Homo sapiens: one gene and its partners. The protein of the gene in region 1 interacts with the protein of each later gene in a pairwise test. Each region holds a gene or a part of one and is shown in the gene's direction. Other genes may lie near its edges.

Region 1 (4,276 bases):
TTACCTGCTTAGCAGCTACTGAGTTGTTAAGTAGGAGCCTGAACTTAAGCATCTAACTCTAGAGTTCTTAGTCTAATCATGACCCTGGACCATTTCCCAGTGCTGTTGAGGTTATGAAAATGGCTGTGCCTTGGTAAAATATTGCAGTGAGTTTCCTCACTGGGAGTTGTTCTGTGGTCTCCTTAGAGTGGGAGTACTGAGGACGAGGCAAGGAATAGAAACTGCGTGTCTGGGCTGGTTATGCCTTATCTCCCTGGCTCTTTATAACAACTGTCCTTGTGAGGATGGCTGTGAAAAGCAGAAATTTTCTTGTCATTCTACTTTCTAGATAAGGATGCCTCCTCAGAGAAGTTGAGTGACTTATGCAAGGTCACACAGCTCAGGATGACAGAACTTGGTCAGGATCTCTGCCTGCCTCGAGTTCAGGGCACTGTCTGCTGAGGTGGGGAGTGTGGTGCGGAAAGCACCAGGAGTGTGATCTAGGAGCTGGAAAGACGGGCTTTAAATGTTAGGCCTGGTGCGTTTCAGCTCCATGTGAGGCTTTGGACGAGATGGAGGAGTAAAGTAGCTGGGTGCTGAGTGACGCTCAGGTGGGCCAAGAGAGCTCCAATGGCCAAGCTGGGCTCCTGCATGGCTCTGAGATGCATGGGGTAGAGTCATAGGCAGGGAGTTATTAAACAAAAGTGAATGACGTCAAGCTTGGAGTGGAAAGGGTGGCGGCGCTGCTGATAGTACCAAGTAGTAATCACACATGGCTTGGCTTTTCTGAGCTTGTTTCCTCATCTGCCAAACAGGGGCAGCTGTCCCTCCAACGCTGGCTGTGCACATAGACACACAGGGCTGGCAAGAAGGGAACGGATGGATGAGTGTTCCCACCTCCACGGCCTTTAGAAACGGACTCCTGGTAGCCATAAAGGGAAACTGAAGAAACGGAGTGGGGCTTACGTGGCTGTGTTGGGGCCAGGTGCTGGAAAATGTTCTTTCCTCAGCCCTTCCCGCATTCTAGGCCACCTGCCCAGACTGAATTTCTTTGAACTGTTCTCCCTGCAGGAGAGAGAGCTGTTGGCTCGTCCCTGAGGAGCTCTTTATTAAACCTGGGATGGAGGGGTGATAGGTGCTGGGATAACAAAATCTGCTCCTCCCTGAGCAGTCTCCGTGCCTTACCCCTGACCACCCTCTTTGGCACACCACCCTGCAAGAGGGCTTGAGCTGCCCCACCTTTGTACATCTCTGGGCCTGCAAAATGGGGGTTGGAATTTGTAGATAGAGTCTGCGTGAGGCAAAATGAGTCCAAGTTCCCAAAGGGGCCAGAATGCAGCCCCTGAATACCAAGAGGCTGGAAGGAGGGAACTTTTAAGGAAGCCAAGAAAGGCTTCCTGGAGGAGGAGACTGCTGAACTAGGCCTGAAAGATGGTAACTAATAGCATTCCCCCAGAGTTTACCATTTAAAAACAGGTGGTATTGTTCCTATATTATAGAGGACATAGGCTTGGAGAGGTGAAGTGACTCCCCCAAAGTCACAGAGCTCCTCAGGGTTGGAGCTGGAACTCAAACTGAGGCCTTCTAAGTCCCGAGCCTCATCCACAGTGGCTGGGACTTGGCTCTTTGGAGACACAGATGGAGCTTGCGGGATGGAAGAGGGAAAAGCTCCTGGGGCTTTAGTTCTCAGCTCAAAGAACCTTCAAAGTGGAGGAAGGAGCTGGAAGCTAGAGAGCCAGGCCCAAGGAAGCCCAGCCAGGGGAAGTCGGGTGGGATTCCTGGCTGTGGGCCTGGGTCACGTAGGCCAGCTGGCCCCTGGGCCTCAGTTTCCTGTTGCTCCCTAGTGTCTGGGGGCAGAGGCAGAGATTCCGGTCTCTGGCCTGGCCTTTACTCCCAGAGTCACAACAGTAACCATAGCGCCGATGAACGCTGTCTGGGCACTTGCTGTGGACCGGGCATCGTGCTGAGATTGTCCACACATCGCCCCTCGTTCCTCTATTCTATAAAATGGGGCAACACTATGAAGTACCTGAAATAGTCCTATCTCATCGAGGCACAGACGGGTTACGTAACTGGCCCAAGGGTGTAGAACTGCTGGGGTGTGAATGCGGGTGACCAGCTATGGAACTTGTACTGTCTCAAGTACTGGCTGGTGACTTAGGTAGGTCCTTCCCAGGCCTTCATTTCCCTGTCTTGAGATGACATCTTAAGGCTACTCCACCTCGCTTCCTCCTCTAGGAAGTTCTGTGCTTCTCGCGGAAAGGCTGGGTAGACAGGTGGACCAGTTTTGTGCTCACTGACCTCGACTTTGTTCAGGCTTCTTTGGACTCTTTTGTTATCCCAGCACCCATCACCCCTCCATCCCAGGTTTAATAAAGAGTGGCCACAGGGAGGTCTCCCATGGCTGAGAGTTCATTAGCTGGGCAAGGCCAGGCTGCAGGAGTGCTGAGTCTTGCTGGGAAACAGCCTCATAAATAATTAAAGCTCGGCCACAGCTCCCTGCCTGTGCTGTAGCCCGCATCTGGCCCTCAGTGTGCGGCCTGGACGTGTGCTCCTGACACTGGACCCAGCCTCATCTCCTTCGTGGATGGAGCCATCTGACGACAGTGTGGCTCCTTTCTGAACCTCCCCGTCTTCACCTGACCGGGCAACTCCACCATCCAGAGTCCTCCTGGGGCTCCCAACTATCCAGAGAATAAAGTCAGTGTAGACTCCTCTGTATTTGGCCCTCTGTGACCTGCTCCTGTTACCCACTTCCCTGCAACCTCTTCCCGCCTCTTCCTGTGAGCCTGTGACACCAAATTAGCTTCTGCCACACTCTCACCCTCCTGCTGCTTCTCACCTCCAGGCCTTTGTGTGTGCTATTCCTCCTGCCGGACACCCTGCTCCCTCACTGGCTGGATTCATTTTATCATCCTAAGAGATCCGGTGCAGGTGTCACCTCCTCTAGGAAGCCTTCCCTGACACCCCATTGCCTCCAGGCTGAGATACAGGATTTGAGTTACTTAGAGACCCATGTCAAAGTCACAACTCAGACACACCTGGTTTTTACATCCCAGCTGTCGCCTCCTGGATGAATGGTTGTGAGGATGATACTAGGCCCTCCTTTTCGGAGATTAAATGTGAGGATTAAATGAGGTCACATGCCTGGTAAGCAGGAGGTGTTCAGTGAATGGCAGTGGGTGAGGTTGTTCTTGGTGGGAGGGGTTTCACTGAGGTCTCTAGGTACCTGACGTCTGGTCTTTGCAGGCCAACCCGGACCCCTTGCTTCCCCTGCTCCTGTCTGCTTAGCCAGATGTCGAGGTTCCTGCAGCTGGTGCTCGCCTCAGCCAGGGAGTTGCCCAGCCACCGTAGAGGTGACAGAAAGCTGCTTGGAAAGGAGCTGGGGGAAGAAATGAGTCAAACAGGCCTAGGGCCCTAGGAGGGGCAGCGGATGGCTTCCCTCTGGCTGTGTGCTGGTCCTAGAGGCTGGCTTCTGTCCTGTCTGCTCCTTTCCTCTTGGCTGTGCCTGGGGAGGAGAGGAGGGCCTGCATCCCCCATGGCACTGCCCAGCAGGCCCTAGCAGGCCTTGGGAGTGTTTGCTGAAGACTTTCCCTTGGGCCCTCCCAGGTCAGCATTCCCCGGTGTGAGTCCCTTGGGCCTCAGGGATGGTTGGCTTCTTCCTCCCCAGTTGTCTGCTGGTGGCCGACTTGACAACTTTCCTCCTTGGGGAAATGCTGGTAGCAGGTGAAGCCAGAGAGAGAGAGACCCCCAGGGGGCAGTGAGGAGCGAGAGCCCAGAGGGCGGATGGAACAGGCACGCCCTTGAAGGAAGTAAATGCATGCATGCTCTCCCAGCACCAGGTTAGTGGTCTACTCCCAGGCCCATGCTGTCCCAGGGGGCCAGCACTGGGGTCTGTGGGAGGGTGTGGGGTTGTGTCCTTAGGGTTGTGGAGCCAGGCCTTGCAGCCCCAGGCCTAAGTAACGTTGGTAGCACCTGCCCCCCAAATGCCCACACATCCAGATCACCCAGGCTCTGAAGGCCTGGCAGGGATGCCACTTCCTCCAGAGATGCCTTTCTAGACCCCTGTCCTCCAGCCCCTCAGGCCCTGAGCTCCCACAACGTGTCCTTTTTCTTCCCGCAGTTGCAGATCCTTCTCAACATTGTGCACTCCGCCAGCCTTGTGCTGGGCAGTAGGAATTCCAAAGTCGTTTCCTCAAGGGGTAGCTAATAACAGCTATTGGCTGCCTATATCCCATGCCTGGGACCACGTTGGACAATTCACATCCTTTAACTTCACTACTCACAACCCTGGGAG
Region 2 (4,276 bases), on another chromosome or scaffold:
CTCCCCCAGCCCTGCGGCCCCGCCTCGTGTTCCACACCCAGCTGGCCCATGGCAGTCCCACTGGCCGCATCGAGGGCTTCACCAACGTCAAGGAGCTGTATGGCAAGATCGCCGAGGCCTTCCGCCTGCCAACTGCCGAGGTATCCACTGGGGAGCCGGGCACCAGGGTCCCTGATGGTGGACCAGAGGTCTGGGCCTGCATCCTGTTCATGAGCTGGGGCTCAGATGCTGAAGCTGCAGATGCTGAGCCTGGGCCCCACTCAGTGGTGGGGGCCAATGGCCTGGGCTGGATGCTGAGTCCCCATGAGGCACTGGGAGGCTTGTGCCCCTGTGAATTGTGGGGAACTGGAGGCCAGGGCTGGATGCTGAGTTCCCATCAGGCACTGGGAGACCTGTGCCCCAGTGGATTGTGGGAGCTGATGGCCAGGGCTGCATGCTGACATCCCATCAGGCATTAGGAGGGGTGTACCCCCAGTAGATTGTGCAAGACTAGGGGTGGATGCTGAGTTCCCAACAGGCACTGAGAGACCTGAGCTCCAATGGACTGTGGGAGGCCAGGGCTGGATGGATTGATTGGATGGATGGATTGAGAGGCCTGCATCCCAGTCGATTGTGCAAAACTGACGACCAGGGCTGGACGCTGAGTTCCCATCAGGCGTTGGGAGGCCTGCACCCCAGTAGATTGTGGGGAGCTGATGGCCACAGTTAAATGCTGAGTTCCCATCAGACACTGAGAGGCCTGCACCTCTACAGACTGTGGGAGCTGATGGCCAGGGCTGGATGCTGAGTTCCTGTCAGGCATTGGGAGGCCAGTGCCCCATGAGATGGTGGAGGCTAGAGGCCAGATACGAGATGCACTTCTCCGTGATGCCTTGGAGAAACTCAACGCTGTGGGAGGCAGGCTTGCCTGGTGCCAAGCACTGTGGGGATAGATGGGAGGGGGTCAAGGAGGGCAATAGTGGGTTTGAGCAAGAAGTAGACGCAGGGGTCTCCCTAAGTGGGATGAGTTTCTGTGTCCTCCACAAGCATTTCCTGAGCACTCACTGTGTGCCAGGCTCCGTTCCCTGAAAGCAGCAATGAATTTTTTTTTTTTTTTTTTTTTTTTTTTTGAGATGGAGTCTTGCTCTGTCACCAGGCTGGAGTGCAGTGGCACGATCTTGGCTCTCTGCAACCTCCACCTCCTGGGTTCAAACCATTTTCCTGCCTCAGCCTCCCGAGTAGCTGGGATTACAGGCGCCCGCCACCAGACCCAGCTAATTTTTGTATTTTTAGTAGAGACAGGATTTCACCATGTTGGCCAGGTTGGTCTCGATCTCCTGACCTCGTGTTCTGCCCACCTCGGCCTCCCAAAGTGCTGGGATTACAGGCGTGAGCCACCGCACCTGGCACAGCAATGAATTTTTGCTAGGACCGAAATCCTAGCTGGGTACAGTGGTGCACACCTATAGTCCCAGCTACTTGGGAGGTTGAGATGGGGGGATCACTGGAGCTCAGGAGTTCCAGGCCAGCCTGGGCAACATAATGAGGCTCCCATCTCTAAAAAAAATTATTTTAACTATGTGGGTGTGGTGGCACGTGTCTGTGGTCCCAGCTACTCGGGAGACTGAGACAGGAGGATCACTTGAGCCCAGGAGTTGGAGACCAGCCTGTGCAACATAGTGAGACCCCATATCTCCACAAAAAATACAAAAATTAGCCAGGCATGGTGGCGAGCACCTGTAGTTCCAGCTACTTGGGAGGCTGAGGTGGGAGGATTGCCGGAATCTGGGAGGTTGTGGCTGCAGTGACTATGATGGCACCACTGCACTCCAGCCTGGGTGACAGAGCAAGACCCTGTCTCAAAAAGAGAAAGGAAAACTAAATCCTAGTCCTAGCAGAGCTGACACGCTAATGTGGGCCCTGCTGTGGCCCTGGCTCAGGCTCAGTGGGTGATGAGTTACTGGGATGGAATCCCCCTAGTCCTCTCCCAGCTCTCTCCCTTCGCCCTCCAGTGGTGATTAGAAAAGGGGGAGGGAGGGGGAAGAGGTTTCAGCGTCTCCCACCCCTGCAGGTGATGTTCTGCACCCTGAACACCCACAAAGTGGACATGGACAAGCTCCTGGGGGGCCAGATCGGGCTGGAGGACTTCATCTTCGCCCACGTGAAGGGGCAGCGCAAGGAGGTGGAGGTGTTCAAGTCGGAGGATGCACTCGGGCTCACCATCACGGACAACGGGGCTGGCTACGCCTTCATCAAGGTGCCTGGGGAGACGGGGCACCCCGGAGGCCTGGGAGTGAGGGTGGGCCATGGGACCCCGGAAACCAGGGCAGAGCCCCAAGGGCTGATGACTCCCCGCCCCCGCAGCGCATCAAGGAGGGCAGCGTGATCGACCACATCCACCTCATCAGCGTGGGCGACATGATCGAGGCCATTAACGGGCAGAGCCTGCTGGGCTGCCGGCACTACGAGGTGGCCCGGCTGCTCAAGGAGCTGCCCCGAGGCCGTACCTTCACGCTGAAGCTCACGGAGCCTCGCAAGGCCTTCGGTGAGGAGCCGCCCCCTGGACCTCCCCAGTGGCGCTGCTCGCATGGGCGCAGGCGGTGGTGCCGGGAGCGGCCAGCAGGTGGCGCCCAAGCCTGGCCTGCCGAAAGGGAAGGGGTTGCAGAAAGGGAAGGGGTTGCAGCTCCTCCCGACCCCAGACGGGGTGCTGGCCCTTGGCCCAGCCTGGGAGAAGGGCGGGGGCGAGGAGGAAGTTGCCCTCACACCTAGCTTCCAGGGGCCATTAGCCCAGCCAAGCGCCCTCAGCCCTGGCCAGCCCCCTATCCCCAACAGGCCAGGCTTGACTGCTCAGTGCCAGCCCCCCCACTTTTCCATCTGGCTTCACTAACTCTCAGGAATGGGCCCCAGGCCCCTGAGGTGGGGGTGGGGGACTAAATCACTTCCCTGGGCAGGTAGGGCTGGTCTGTGGCCCAGCAGCCATACCCCCTTGGCCAAGAGGAGACGGACTCAGGCAGCTGGAGACTCAGGCTGGGGTACACCTGCTTCCTGTCCCCCAGCCCCTGGGAGCAGAAGTGGCCCCTCCAGTCTCCCCTCCAGCATTTCCTATTCCTGGCCCCCAGCTGTTCCCCCTGCTCTGCCCCACATCCATGCCAGGCCTGAGTCAGGATTCCTGCCCTCCTGGGATCACCCCGGCCCCAGCCCCCAGAAACTTGCAGAAGCCTGGAGAAGTTTGGGGTGGTGGTGAAAGCCAGGAAGGACAAGTTCCTGCCCAGAACGTGCTAAAACCAAGCTTCCCCCACACTCACTCCTCTCCTGCCTCCCACAGACATGATCAGCCAGCGTTCAGCGGGTGGCCGCCCTGGCTCTGGCCCACAACTGGGCACTGGCCGAGGGACCCTGCGGCTCCGATCCCGGGGCCCCGCCACGGTGGAGGATCTGGTGAGTGCTCCAGCCGGACCCTATCTCCGGCATCCCTTCCCTTTCTTTTTTTTTTTTTTGAGACAGAGTCTCACTCTTGTCACCCAGGCTGGAGTGCAGTGGTGCAATCTCGGCTCACTGCAACCTCTGCCTCCCAGGTTCAAGCGATACTCCTGCCTCAGCCTCCCAAGTAGCTGGGATTACAGGTGCCCACCACCATGCCCAGCTGATTTTTGTATTTTTAGTAGAGATGGGGTTTCACCATGTTGGCCAGGCCAGGAGTTGGTCTCGAACTCCTGACATCAGGTGATCCAGCCTCCTTGGCCTCCCAAAGTGCTGGGATTATAGGCATGAGCCACCGCGCCCAGCCCTCCCTTCCTTTTCATAACCGGCAGCATTACCTGTTAGCTGAGGGGACTCTGGGCAGACAGCCTGGATTCTAGTCCACTTCTGCCACTTCCCAGCTCCCAGGGACCTTCCTTGGGCACATGGGCCGCAGTTTGCCCATCAGTAAAATGGGGATGAGCTGAACACCGATACCACCTTCTCAGGGTTGTCCTGAGGTCTAAATACGAATATATGTAAAGTGGTGACAATGGCAGTCCGTCCAATTACTATGTATATTCACATTGTTATGATGTCGCTGTCACCCCTCCCTGGCCCCCAGCCCTCTGCCTTTGAAGAGAAGGCCATTGAGAAGGTGGATGACCTGCTGGAGAGTTACATGGGTATCAGGGACACGGAGCTGGGTGAGTGAGGGCTGCCTGGGGGAGGGGGCATCTAGGTCTGCTGGGGGCCGAATCCACCCTGAGCCCCTTGGTCCCTGGTGTCATTTGTGCCTCCGTTCTGACCCCTCCCCCAATAGCGGCCACCATGGTGG
Region 3 (4,276 bases), on another chromosome or scaffold:
CCAGTCGGTAAAGAAGCTTTCTGATGTGATGATCCTGACTGTGTTCTGTCTGAGCGTGTTTGCTCTCATTGGGCTGCAGCTGTTCATGGGCAATCTGAGGAATAAATGTTTGCAGTGGCCCCCAAGCGATTCTGCTTTTGAAACCAACACCACTTCCTACTTTAATGGCACAATGGATTCAAATGGGACATTTGTTAATGTAACAATGAGCACATTTAACTGGAAGGATTACATTGGAGATGACAGTAAGAAGTATTACATTATGTTAACCTTAGTGTTGCTGAATGAATTTTCAACTATAAATAGTTGAGACTGTGGGTGTACAGCCACCTTTGTAAATAACTGAAATAGTCCAACTCTGATTTATTACTAATACTAATGTGAATAGGATTAATATGAAATAAAATGGGTTTTTTTTTGTATTAACAGGTCACTTTTATGTTTTGGATGGGCAAAAAGACCCTTTACTCTGTGGAAATGGCTCAGATGCAGGGTAAGAAACATAATATATTTTTTAAGATATAGAACTCTTTGCGAAAAAAAAAAGTAGGTAGGAAAACAACTACATGGTTATATGTGTAGCCTTACCATGTATGCAATAAAGAGCAGTGCTGCTCCCCTAGGAAGTGCCTTGTCTGCCTTACCGGATTGCCACTGGTCCTAAACTCACAGCAATTAAAAATTATCCCTTTGTGAAGACCTTTCCCCAAAATTTCACAGTTAAGATGTTCTTAAATTGATGCTCCAATGTGTGAAGGCCCAGAGTCTGTCTTTGCTGTACATCTATCAGAGCTGTTAGGAAACACAGGAACACAAGATGGGCCCCTTTTTATTGGTGTACATATGTATCAATGGGATGAGTTTTGTCGTGACTGGAAAAGACCCAGACTATAATGTGGTCTTCAGGGTGGAAGCACACTTGGGGAAGTGCTTTGAAATATTTAAGTATTCTTGAAGGAGCATGTATTTCTGTATACAAAGAAGCCAAGGGTGCATGTGTGCCAAAGGCATGTCCAAGTATCAGTTGACATAATGAATAGTTCTTTTAGGCCACACGTTACAACAAAAGATGCCATAATATCTTAGTCATGCTGTTATTCTCTAACCCTTAAATATTTTCCTAAGAGTATTGTAAGTTAATTTTAAATCAAAATAGGGAATTTTTTAAGAGCTGAGAGATAGCAATAGTAAGTGACTCTTAGGACACGGAACTTAAATATATTTTGAGTCATCCTTTAAAAAGGGAAACTGGTGTAGCCATAAAAATCTAAGAGAGTTAATGAAAATGTATACTAGTCATATAAATAGAGCTTTGGGGAATTTTTTTTCCTGACAGTTTTCCTAGCCTTATTATGAATGTAGGGGGTAAGAGCATAGGTTGTAGAGTTCATGTATACCAGGGTTCAAATCCTAACTTCACCACTTGTAAGCTCTTTGACCTTGGAAAAGTGTCCTAAGCTCTCTGTACCTTAGTTTACTCATCGTTAAAATGGAGAGAGTAATATTCTGTCCCTTTAATAGTTGTGATGATTAATGATTTAATACACATAAAGTATTTGAACTATCACATGGACAATTGTAAGAATTTATTGTATGTACCAGCCTAAGCAACAAAGCAAGACCCTACCTCTACAAAACAAAAAAAAAAAAAAAAAAAAAAAAAGAAAGAAAGAAAAAAAAGAAAAGAAAAGAAGAAGAAAAAAAGAAAAACTTAGCCAGGCATTGTGATGCACACGTGTAGTCCTAACTTCTCAGGGGGCTAAAGTAGAAGGATTGCTTGAGCCTAGGAATTCCAAGCCACAGTGAGCTATGATCATGCCACTGCACTCCAGCCTAGGTGATAGGCTGTCTCTGAAAAATGGCTGGGAGCGGTGGCTCACACCTGTAATCCCAGCACTTTGGGAAGCAGAGGCAGGGGGATTACTTGAGGCCAGGAGATCTAGACCAGCCTGGCCAACATGGCGAAACCTTGTCTCTACTACAAAATGCAAAAATTAGCTGGGTGTGGTGGGGCACACCTGTATCTCAGCTACTCTGGAGGCTGAGGCACAATAATCTCTTAAACGTGAAAGATGGAGGTAGCAGTGAGCTGAGATGGCACCACTACACTCCAGCCTGGATGACAAAGCGAGACCCTGTCCCCCCAAAAAATTTTTTTAATAAATTTAAAAAAAAAGCACACTCTAAAAAAAGAAAAGAATTTATTGCCTATTAACTATTATTTATTATGATGATGATTAACATAAAAGCCCAGATAAAATTTTGGATAAATTTGGTTAATACATACTTTATTCCTATTAAACCATAATAATCTATTCCCCTTAATGAATTCCTATTATGGCTTAAGTAATTTACATCAACAGTCCCCAGCCTTTTTGGCACCAGGGACTGTTTTGTGGAAGACAATTTTTCCACCGACCAAGGGTGGTGGTGGGAAATGATTTCAGGATGATTCAAGCACGTTACATTTATTGTGTACATTATTTATATTATTAGCATACTGTAATATATAATGAAATAATTGTACAAGTCACCATAATGTAGAATCAGTGGGAGCCTGATCTCAAATGATTCACCTGCCTCGGCCTCCCAAAGTGCTGGGGATTACAGGCATGAGCCACTGCGCCTGGCCATTGGTGATGAGATTTTTGTTTTTGTTTTTGTTTTTTTTTGAGACGGAGTTTAGCTCTGTCGCCCAGGCTGGAGTGCAGTGGCGCGATCTCGGCTCACTGCAAGTTCCGCCTCCCGGGTTCAAGCTATTCTCCTGCCTCAGCCTCCCGAGTAGCTGGGACCACAGGCGCCCGCCACCACGCCCGGCTAATTTTGTATTCTTAATAGATACCAGGTTTCACCATGTTAGCCAGGATGGTCTCAATCTCCTGACCTCGTGATCCGCCCGCCTCGGCCTCCCAAAGTGCTGGGATTACAGGAGTGAGCCAGGTGATGAGTTTTAAATACAAAACCATTTTGTATTTAAGCGGCACATTCCATTAAAGAAATAAATGATTTGTATTTTATTAAAATTAAAAGCTGCTGTTTTACAAAGATATTCTTAAGAGAATGAAAAGACAAACCAGCAACTGGAAGACAATATTTGCAAAGCACATATCTGATTTAAAAAAAAAAAAAAAAAGACTGGGGCTAGGTGAAGTAGCTCATTCCTGTAATCCAGCACTTTGGGAAGCTGAGAGGGGAAGATCATTTGAGCCCAAGAGTTTGAGACTGGCCTGGGCAGCATAGGGAGACACTGTTTCTCCAAAAAATAAAAATAAAAAAATTAGCCAGGCATGGTGTAGTGTATCTGTGGTACCAGCTACTCAGGAGGCTGAGGCAGAAGGATTACTTGAGCCTGGGAGGTCGAGGCTGCAGTGAGCCATGATCAGACCACTGCACTATAGCCTGGGCAACAGAATTATACCCTGTCTCAAAAGAAAACAAAACAAAACAAAACAACAAACCAGTGTCCAGAATATCTAAAGAACTCTTAAAACTCAACAATAAGAAAACAAATGACCCAATTTAAAACTGGCAAAAGATCTGAACAGATACCCCACACGAGTATATAGTACAGGTGGTTATTAAGGAGGTAAAAAGGCACTCGACATCATTTGTCATTAGGGAATTGCAAACTAAAACAACAAGGAGTTACCACTGCACATCTGTTAGAATGACTGAAAAATGTATCTGGCAATACCAACTTCTGATGAGGATGCAGAATAACAGGAACTCTTGCTTATTGCTGGTGGGAATGCAAAACTAGACAACCGCCTTGGAAGACAGTTTGGCGGTTTCTTACAAAATAAACATAGTCTTACCATATGATCCAACAACTGCACTTCTAGGTATTTAGCTGATCAATTTGAAAACTTATGTCTTCACAAAAAACCTGCATGTGAATATTTATAGCAGCTGTATTCATAATGACCCCAAACTGGAAGTAACCAAGATGCCCTTCAATGACCCCAAACTGGAAGCAACCAAGATGTCCTTCAATAGTTGTATAGATAAATAAATTGTTATGCCCATACAATAAAATATTACTGAGTGATTAAAAAGAAATGAGCTATCAAGATACAAACAAATATTAATGAATATTAAATGCACATTTCTAAGTGAGAAAAAGCCAACCTCAAAAAGCTACATACTGTATGATTTCAATTACCTGACATTCTAGAAAACACAAAGCAACAGAGATGATAAGAAAATAGTGTTTTCCAGGGGTTCATGGTGAGGGATTATCTAGGTAAAGCAAAGGGGATTTTTTTTTAGGGTGAGA
Region 4 (4,276 bases), about 110 Mb from region 1:
TGGGATTACAGGCATGTACCACCATGCCCAGCTAATTTTTGTATTTTAGTAGAGATGGGGTTTCACCATGTTGGCCAGGCTTGTCCCAAACTCCTGAGCTCAGGTGACCCACCCACCCCGGCCTCCCAAAGTGCTGGAATTATAGGCGTGAGCCACCGCGCCTGGCCTGCAGGCTCCTCTTCTACCTACCCCTTAAGTGTTGGAATTTCTCCTGGACTTGCCCCTGGTATTTTTTTTTTTTTCTGACATTCCATGATTTCAACTAAAGTTTATCTTTAGGCCAGGCCTTTTTCCTGAACTTTCCATTCATGCACTATAGTAATCTACACAGCCTGCCATAATAAAATGCAGTAGATTGGATGGCTTAAACAACATTTATTTCTGACAGTTTTGGAGGCTGAGAAGTCCAAGATTAAGGTGCCAGCCAATTTGGTTCCTGGTGAGAACTCTCTTCTGGTTCGCAAACAGCTGCCTTTTTGCTGTGTCCTCACAGGGTGGAAAGAGAGGGATCTCCTACATCGCTTCTTATAAGGGCATGAATCCCATCATGAGGACTGCATTCTCATGATCTAATTACCTCCCAAAAGCTCATCTCCAAGTGCTATTACATTGGGAGCTAAGGCTTCGACATATGAACACCAACATTCAGTCCATAACATACCCAACAGCCTAATAGGTATCCCTACTTGACTGTTACACAGACTCTTACAATGTCAACAGGTTTAAAACTGAACTCATCTTCTTACCTGCAATCCTGCTTCTCCTGGATTTTTCCTATAGGATGCCATTCTCCATTCAGTCACCTGAATCAGATATTTTAAGACTCATCCTGCACATATCCCCACCCCCGCCCCCACCACAGACAAGCAAACCCTGTGCTTTCTGCCCCCTGACGATCCTTCGAATCCATCTCTTCTCCATGTTATTGCCATTGTCTTCACTCAAGCCCTCATATTTTCCACCTAGAGTATCACTTTCTCTCATTGCTGCTGGATCTATCCTCCATACTATATCTAGAGTGAAATTTTGAAGGATGAAAATGTTTTGGTATTACTTGCTTTCAGTCCCTCAAGATAAAATGCTGACTCGTCCTGGTCAGGTCCCTCCCTACGGGACCACTTGCATTGCCTGACATGCCGTGGACTTCCTGCCTCTGTGCCTCTCTGCCCCTGCCCCCGCGCCCGGCCAAACCTGACAAATTTTCTGATTCCACCTGGGCTTCTGGCGAGGCCCTGTCCAAACCCTCTGTGTCTGGGGCTTCTTAGTTCTTGTTATTAGGATCTCCAGGGATGGGAAGTAGATAAGCAGCCTTCTCCTGCAGCCTGTTCTCCTGTTTTGCTACCCTGTCACTACATTACTTACTTTGTCAGTATTTATGGAACACTTTCTCTGTGCCAGAGAAACATTTTTAGGAAACATGAATGAGACACAGCCTGGCCTCAAGTCTGTAAGGGAAGACTGATGGCCAGGCACATCCAATATCATGTGCTAAGTGCACAGAACACTGCAGTAGCCCAGCTTCTCCTGATCACTGATAGAAATTTCACCCTGCTTTTTCCTGTACAGGCATGGAGAACCAAACGCTTAGTTCCCAGCACCACCCACCTACCGACCCTCCATCTCTCAGGCTAAGCACCCAGCCATCAAGACGGTCACTTCCAGGTGCAGGCTGTGGTAGAAAGCAGGCTGCTCCCTGTGCTCCCCGCCTACTGGCTGACCAAGGGGCAGAAGAGCTTCCCCTTCCCTGCCCCCACTAGCTGCAGTCAGAACCATCTTTTCTGTTAAACGCCTTTGCAGCCCTCCACAGGACTGTCTCCTCAGCTCCTGGAGTAGCCAGGAAGAAAACCAAGCCCACTGTTTACTTTCTAAATGCCAGGCTTGTTTCCCTTGATGACTTGTGTAGGTTTGCATAGGAAAACTTCTTAGAACAATTTGTTCTACAAGGCAAGCACTCAAATGGCCAAGGCCTGGTTGCCTGGGCTAGCTTCAGCACTGGGGCATCAGCTCTGTGTCTCCTGCTTTACATCCACCTGTTCCATTTTATAATTGGTGCGTGGTCTCTGAAAACTCATGAGAAATCTTATTTAAAGACGGCAGTAATTAACCTAATTGCAAATATAGAAAATGAAAATATTTCCTATGAAATGCCCAGGAGTTGTCAGATGTTTTTACAGAATCCCAGAAATAGGATCAAGGAAGGAAGATAAGTAGGAAATAGCAGGGCTTTCATACATTGGTATTAAGCAGTATGCTGTGCCTGTGGTTAAATATTAAGTAAAGACATGGCCATTGTCTTCAGTGGAAAGGAAGAAATGTGGGAAGTAGAAAAATTAGATAAGGAAGCATGGAAAAGCAGCCACCCCATCTCTCTCCTCCTCCCCGTGCCACTTCCTGCAGGCGTCTTCCTGGCTTCTGCTGTTGGTGAGAGGATCAGGCTCTGAGGGCTGGGAGATTGATACTGTGTTAAAATGCAGCCTCACATCTCCCTGCCTTATTCCTCAGTCATGGAACCCTACCTGTCCATCTAACTGAGCTTCTAATTCTGTAGTTAAAGAAACATGGCCCAGAGAGTGAGGGGATTTGCTTCTTGTCCAGCAGTTTATTGGAGGCCCAACCTCCTCATTTCTGGACCCCCGGGCCAGGGCCCTTTCCCTTGACTGCTTCCGTTCCTGAGCTGCGATGACATGGAGATGATCAGCATCCCCTTCTTCCAGTGTACCTTGTCAATATATTCCTGTGAACCTGGCAAAACTTTTACATCCAGGCTTGAGGAAGTATTGCCTTTTTTTCTGGACTTTGAAAAGATACTAAGATGAGAACATCTTACTGGGCTGGAAATGCACTTTAACGTACTTGAGTGAAAAGATGTGTGAAAATGTTACAAAGCCAGTGGCATCCCTAGGCTCAACATGCCTGAAAGCTAAAGTATTAGGAAAGGAGGACTTTGTTCTCGGTGTTTTCATTCTCTTCCCTCCCTCCCCTGTTGTTCCTGCAGGCCGCCAGCTCACTGGAGCCGAGAGGGCCTCCACGGCCACTGCAGAGGAGACTGACATCGATGCGGTGGAGGTCCCACTTCCAGGGAATGATGTCCTGGAATTCAGCCGAGGTGTGACTGATCTAGATGCTGTAGGGAAGGAAGGAGGCTCTCACACAGGCTCCAAGGTAGGCAAGAGATGGCCCATCTGTGTGATCTGCACACGTGTGCCCTCAGGTCATCAGTCACTTCCTAGCCCCTGCCAGCTCAGCTTCCGAGTGAGGCACTCCATGGCACAGTGGCGGTGCCAGAGCGCACTTCATTGCCTTTCAGAAGGTCTGACTTCCAGAGGGTCTGAACACTAGATGCTGCTGCAGGCCAGGATGCTGTGGAGCTGATTCCTGACACACATCGCCCTCCCCAAATCCCACCAATATTTGGTCTCCTACTCCCTGGCACCCTCTTCCCTTAACAGCATCTCATCTTTGCACAGTATTTTGCAAGGCTCACTCTGGCACACACACACACAGACTCCCCTGTGACTTAGCTAGTAGAGCAAAGTCAGTTTGGGCCCGCTCTGCCTGCAGTAGCGGTGGTATACCGTTGGTAATTCCTGTGGATAGCACTTTGGAGTCTGGAAGTTGGCCCACTGGATGTCAGAAACTGAGAGACCACCTTAGTCTTCATCAGCTCTAACCTAACATCATATAGGTGAGATGACTGTGGCATCTGGGGGTTCCTAATGTGATCCAATTAAGAAACTAAGAACTTGAGATCAAATTCCAACCTGAAGCCAAAGCTAATTAAAAATGTTTTAAACCCAGAAGCAAAATTACTGACCAATAGCTCTACCCTTAGATTCCCAGGCGGTTTATATCAGGGCACCTCTCTCTCTTTAACATTCATATCTTATCTCACATGGAGGTTTGGAGGGCAGTTCAGTTCTAAACTAGCTGCCTGACGTTTCCTTTGGAACCAGTTTATCCTCTACAAGTGGAAACAGCCCTGTGTCACTGGGGGCCTTCCTTGTGTATGTCTGAAGAAGTCCCCACAGCAGAACTGCCAGAAACAAAATGTCTTTCCCTGCCATGGAATTCTATGAATCGTAGAAGCCATCTTGGTAAAAATGTCCACAGGAGAGGGAGACAGAAGGAAAGGAGGGAAGGACACAGGAACTTCTTTCATCTAAGAGGATCTCTCCAGATCATTATATATTTTAGGATCCAAACTTCTTTGCCGATGGTTCTCACCAGAGGCAGTGGAGGGCAGGAGGTAGCCCCCTCACATGGCCCCTTCCTCCAG
Region 5 (4,276 bases), on another chromosome or scaffold:
TAGAGGAAATGTTAGTGTGTTTTCAGGAAAGGTTGTAGCTCTCATATTAAAAATTGTAAGCTTAGAATATTTAGGATGATCACTGATGAAGGGAAATCAGGTTTATCCTGCTTGGAGGATCACCTGAGCCCAAGAGGTTGAGGCTACAGTGAGCCATGATTGCACCATTGCACTCCAGCCTGGGTGACAGAGCAAGACCCTATCTCAAAAACAAAAACAAAAACCTGTCTCAAGAGGAGCTGCCTGTTTATTTAATTTCCCCATCCTACAGTTCTGGAATTACCCACCAATCCACCTCATCACCCCTGCCCATCCAAGGTTAAAAATTGACCTCATGGCAGATCCTGCCATACTTTTTTGGAACAGAAAGGCAGACAGTTGCCTTGATTTCAAAATATTGCCCTGCTAAATAAACACAAAATAAAAATAAAATTGATGTACTGGATTGTTCTTAAGATAAATACTTCTAAGAGCTGGATTCGGAGCAAATGAGGTGGGCTGTCAATACTCTGCTTCCAGTGTTGAAGTTCTGGTGTTTAAGGTGTTAAAAGAAAGCTTCAGACAAATTAAATTTAATGGAGTTTAATTGAAAAAGAAAAAAATAGTTTGTGAATCAGGTGGCCTCTAGAATCACAGCAGATTCAGAGAGATTCCAGGGATGCCTCGTGGCCAGAACAAATTTATAGAAAATAAAAGTAAAGTGACGTACAGAAATCAGAAGTGTGCAGAAAGAGCTGGATTTGTTATGGGTTGGCGTTCACCTTATTTGAACACTCAGCAGTGTATGAGTGGTTGAAGTATGGCTCCTGGGATTAGCCAAGACTCAGCTATTGTTATAGACGCATACTCCTAAGTTAGGTTTTCAATCTTGTCTACCTGTTAAGTTATAGTTTGTCCACGAGGACTCAAATATGCAAGTACGGAGTCCTTCTCAGGCCATATTTCATTCACTTTAACAAAAGATAAAAAGAAATTACATAGTCTAGACAAACATAGGTTAAACTCTAGAAAACATCACTGTGTTCCTTGAGAAAACAGTAAGAAGATACCATCACTGTCTTATACGTATAAATTAGCAAGTAGGACAAAAATACATACCAGATCAAAAAACTGCCAACTTAAACATTCACACAGAGCTTCCTGCCCATTTCTTTGGATAATATTTGTTTTGAAAGAGATAAGAAGCCTCCCTCCAAGACCCTGTGCTCCCTCTTCTAGCTTTCAGTTCATGCTGCTTCATCCACCTCATTGTGCACCACACTTACCCTGCAGCTGTCTTTGTTAACTTATTTTCCTCCACCCACCTTCTCTGTCTACCTCTTATTGTGTTTTACTTTTGTCCCACCTCTGCTACCTACTCTGCTGTGATCCCTTCTCTCTGAGGATCTCATCTTTATGTCCTGTGGGAATGGGGTCGAGCCTGGGGGTCTGGGAAGGTTTCCTTCCCACTGAGTCCTGGAAAGGCTCTTTTCCAGGGACTGAGGTAGCAAGGAACAGAACATCCCTTATTAAAGACCAGACACTGACTTGGCACTGTACCTATGCTGTCTCATTTAATGCTCACAATAATCTTTTCTGGAAGCTTTAGTTTTCTTTTTTACAAATGATTTGAAAACTGAAGCCTGGAGGCATTAGGTAATTTATCTAAGGTTAACACAGGAAGTGCAGGGTTGAACCAGGACACAAGCCCAGATCTGTCAGTTGCACGATGCTGCCTTCAGATTATGTCAAGTGAAGCAGAAACAAACTCTTGAGTTAAATCTATCAATACTCAGAAAATGAAACAAATAGAGTTTGTTAAGAGCTGTAGTTTATGCAACGATTTATCCTGATAATCTTAATAACGATATATTTTAAATTATTATTTCTGAATCCAACTTACATTAAGATACTTTTCTAAAAAATTAGAGCACCTCTTTTCATAACTTGGAATGTTTTCTTTGAGAAATTCTATTGGAAATGGTGAGTAGGTTACCAGTTGGCTCTCAGTTGCATAGTGAACCTTCTATGGGTAAGAACTTTGGTATGAATATCACAGTTTCTCCTTGTTTCTTTGGAGACTGCATCAGATGCCAACTAGGAACTGAATGTACCAGGAACACAGCTATCCTTTTACCCACTTCACCCCCGCCCCCTTAGAAGGAAGAGGAATAATAGTAACAATCACAATTGTAGCAACAACCGTGAACATTTACTGAGAATTTGTTATATGCCAGATATTCTAGGCGACCTCACCTATGACTGTTTCTCAAATTTTCATAGTTTACAAAAAGTGATTACTTTTCTGATTTGCATTGATTATGAAATTATGCACATTTGCCAACTTTTTTTAATGGGGGTCCATACATGTAAAATATAGGCCTGTTAATATCTGTATCCCATATTTATATCTTTGACATTTATGGTCATAACAAGAAATATCAGGACACATCTCTGAAGATTTTGGCAGACAATCTGTGGTGGAGGTTTTGAATTCTTGTCGGCAAGCACAGTCTTCCAAAGCTTAGCTTCTGGACCTGAGGGTCTGTGAACCTGCAACATCAGTGTCATCTGGGAGCTCATTATAAATACAGTCTCAGAACTCACCCCCGGGGCACTGGACCAGTATCTGTATTTCAATAAAATTAGGGGTGTATGTGCTTATTATAGCTCATGTCTAGAAGGTCATCCTAGGCCTGGCACAGTGGCACATGCACACACCTATAATCCCAGAGCTTTGAGAGGCTGAGGTGGAAAGACCACTGGAGGCCAGGAGTTCAGAGACCAGCTTGGACAACATAGCAAGACTCTGTCTCTACAAAAAAAAAAAAAAAAAAAATTAGCCAGGCATGGTGGTGCATGTCTGTATTCCCAGCTGCTTGGAAAACTGAGATGGGAGGATCGCTTGAGTCCAAGAGTTTAAGGATGCAGTGAGCTATAATTGGGCCACTACACTCAGCCTAGGCAACAGAGAGAGACCTTGTATCTAAAAAAATAAAAATAAAAAAAAGAAGGTCACCCTGTGTCACCTCCTGTCAAACAATATATTTTTCTTCTGCAGATTACTGGAAGAATTGGTTCGGAAAGAGAAAGAATTACAAGCACTCCTTCATCGAGCTATTGAAGAAAAAGACCAAGAAATTAAACACCTGAAGCTTAAGTCCCAACCCATAGGTGAATAGCAGAAAGTTTTATAGTAATACTGTTCAGCCAGGCTGCCACAAAAAGCCAAGAAAGCCAACAGGAAGTTTTATTTGTGGCTAAGTCAGCATTTCTCACTTCTACCATGACTGCAAGCAGGAATTCCTTTAAAAAAAAAAAATCCAGTTTTTAACTGTAGCAAACTCATTTCTTATAAGTGCAGTAAAAATAGATTATTCATAATCATCTTTTCCTGAGATTATGTATTACTGAGGTAAACAGGGCTCTCTGTTTTTAGTCTTTATTTTTAAAGATTTCACAATGAGCTTACTAGAATAAATAATACTATTTTTTGTCATTTTGCATTTATATTCTGTGTATTCTAGCCTTTTTCCTTATAATTTGAAGAGGCTTAAATAGAATAAAGATGTAGTAGTAAAAAGGCATAGCTGGGGAGAATGTTATTTAGCCCATTTAGAGGAAAACAGAATTCATAGTTATTTGTTTAGATATGTGGCTCTTTCATAGTGGAAAAAGAGATTATGATAATTATATAGTTCTCTGCTAATTGTATTCATCTTTATTGCATGAAAAACACAAAGTCTAATTTTGGTGCACAGAGTTTATTCTAAGAAACCATAAAATTGATATGAAAGTGTAACGTAGGAGTGTCATTTCATTATTGCTTTTGCTCCTTATTTACTAGTAAATTCACTTCTCTGAGTTTTATTCATATTATCATCTATACTGCCAATCTCAATTGTTTCTATGAACTGTTCTCTGATAGAGCAAAATCTTTTAAAGTATCAATAAATGTCTGTTGATTGTGAGGGTCTCAGATGACCTCTGTTAGGTGAAATTAAGAATATCTTCCCAAAATTCTGTTCTAGAAATTCCTGAATTGCCTGTATTTCATCTAAATTCTTCTGGCACAAATACTGAAGATTCTGAACTTACCGACTGGCTGAGAGTGAATGGAGCTGATGAAGACACTATAAGCCGGGTAAAGAAAACTGTCTGTGGGACAAGTATTCTTTCACTTCGTTTCATAATGTTGGGTGCCTGCTATGTGACAGGCACAGGGGATACACTGGTGAGCAAATCAGACCCAGCCCTGCCCTCCTGAGGCTTACAGACCAGGGTAGGCACGTGATAA

The links.
Region 2: the proteins of LRP8 (region 1) and GIPC1 interact in a two-hybrid assay, tested with the Homo sapiens proteins (one study listed by BioGRID).
Region 3: the proteins of LRP8 (region 1) and SCN3A interact in a two-hybrid assay, tested with the Homo sapiens proteins (one study listed by BioGRID).
Region 4: the proteins of LRP8 (region 1) and NOS1AP interact in a two-hybrid assay, tested with the Homo sapiens proteins (one study listed by BioGRID).
Region 5: the proteins of LRP8 (region 1) and MAP3K5 interact in binary tests that used the Homo sapiens proteins (3 or more experiments, as listed by UniProt).

The regions. Positions count from the first base shown.
Region 1 is NC_000001.11:53,321,014-53,325,289, reverse strand, and holds part of LRP8 (low-density lipoprotein receptor-related protein 8 isoform 1 precursor), read left to right. Parts: intron 1-4,276. UniProt on the Homo sapiens protein: Cell surface receptor for Reelin (RELN) and apolipoprotein E (apoE)-containing ligands. LRP8 participates in transmitting the extracellular Reelin signal to intracellular signaling processes, by binding to DAB1 on its cytoplasmic tail.
Region 2 is NC_000019.10:14,478,553-14,482,828, reverse strand, and holds part of GIPC1 (PDZ domain-containing protein GIPC1), read left to right. Parts: coding exon 1-140; intron 141-2,050; coding exon 2,051-2,236; intron 2,237-2,343; coding exon 2,344-2,524; intron 2,525-3,304; coding exon 3,305-3,417; intron 3,418-4,063; coding exon 4,064-4,145; intron 4,146-4,261; coding exon 4,262-4,276. UniProt on the Homo sapiens protein: May be involved in G protein-linked signaling.
Region 3 is NC_000002.12:165,158,525-165,162,800, reverse strand, and holds part of SCN3A (sodium channel protein type 3 subunit alpha), read left to right. Parts: coding exon 1-245; intron 246-429; coding exon 430-493; intron 494-4,276. UniProt on the Homo sapiens protein: Pore-forming subunit of Nav1.3, a voltage-gated sodium (Nav) channel that directly mediates the depolarizing phase of action potentials in excitable membranes.
Region 4 is NC_000001.11:162,352,192-162,356,467, forward strand, and holds part of NOS1AP (carboxyl-terminal PDZ ligand of neuronal nitric oxide synthase protein), read left to right. Parts: intron 1-2,995; coding exon 2,996-3,162; intron 3,163-4,276. UniProt on the Homo sapiens protein: Adapter protein involved in neuronal nitric-oxide (NO) synthesis regulation via its association with nNOS/NOS1. The complex formed with NOS1 and synapsins is necessary for specific NO and synapsin functions at a presynaptic level.
Region 5 is NC_000006.12:136,561,380-136,565,655, reverse strand, and holds part of MAP3K5 (mitogen-activated protein kinase kinase kinase 5), read left to right. Parts: intron 1-3,040; coding exon 3,041-3,153; intron 3,154-4,010; coding exon 4,011-4,123; intron 4,124-4,276. UniProt on the Homo sapiens protein: Serine/threonine kinase which acts as an essential component of the MAP kinase signal transduction pathway. Plays an important role in the cascades of cellular responses evoked by changes in the environment.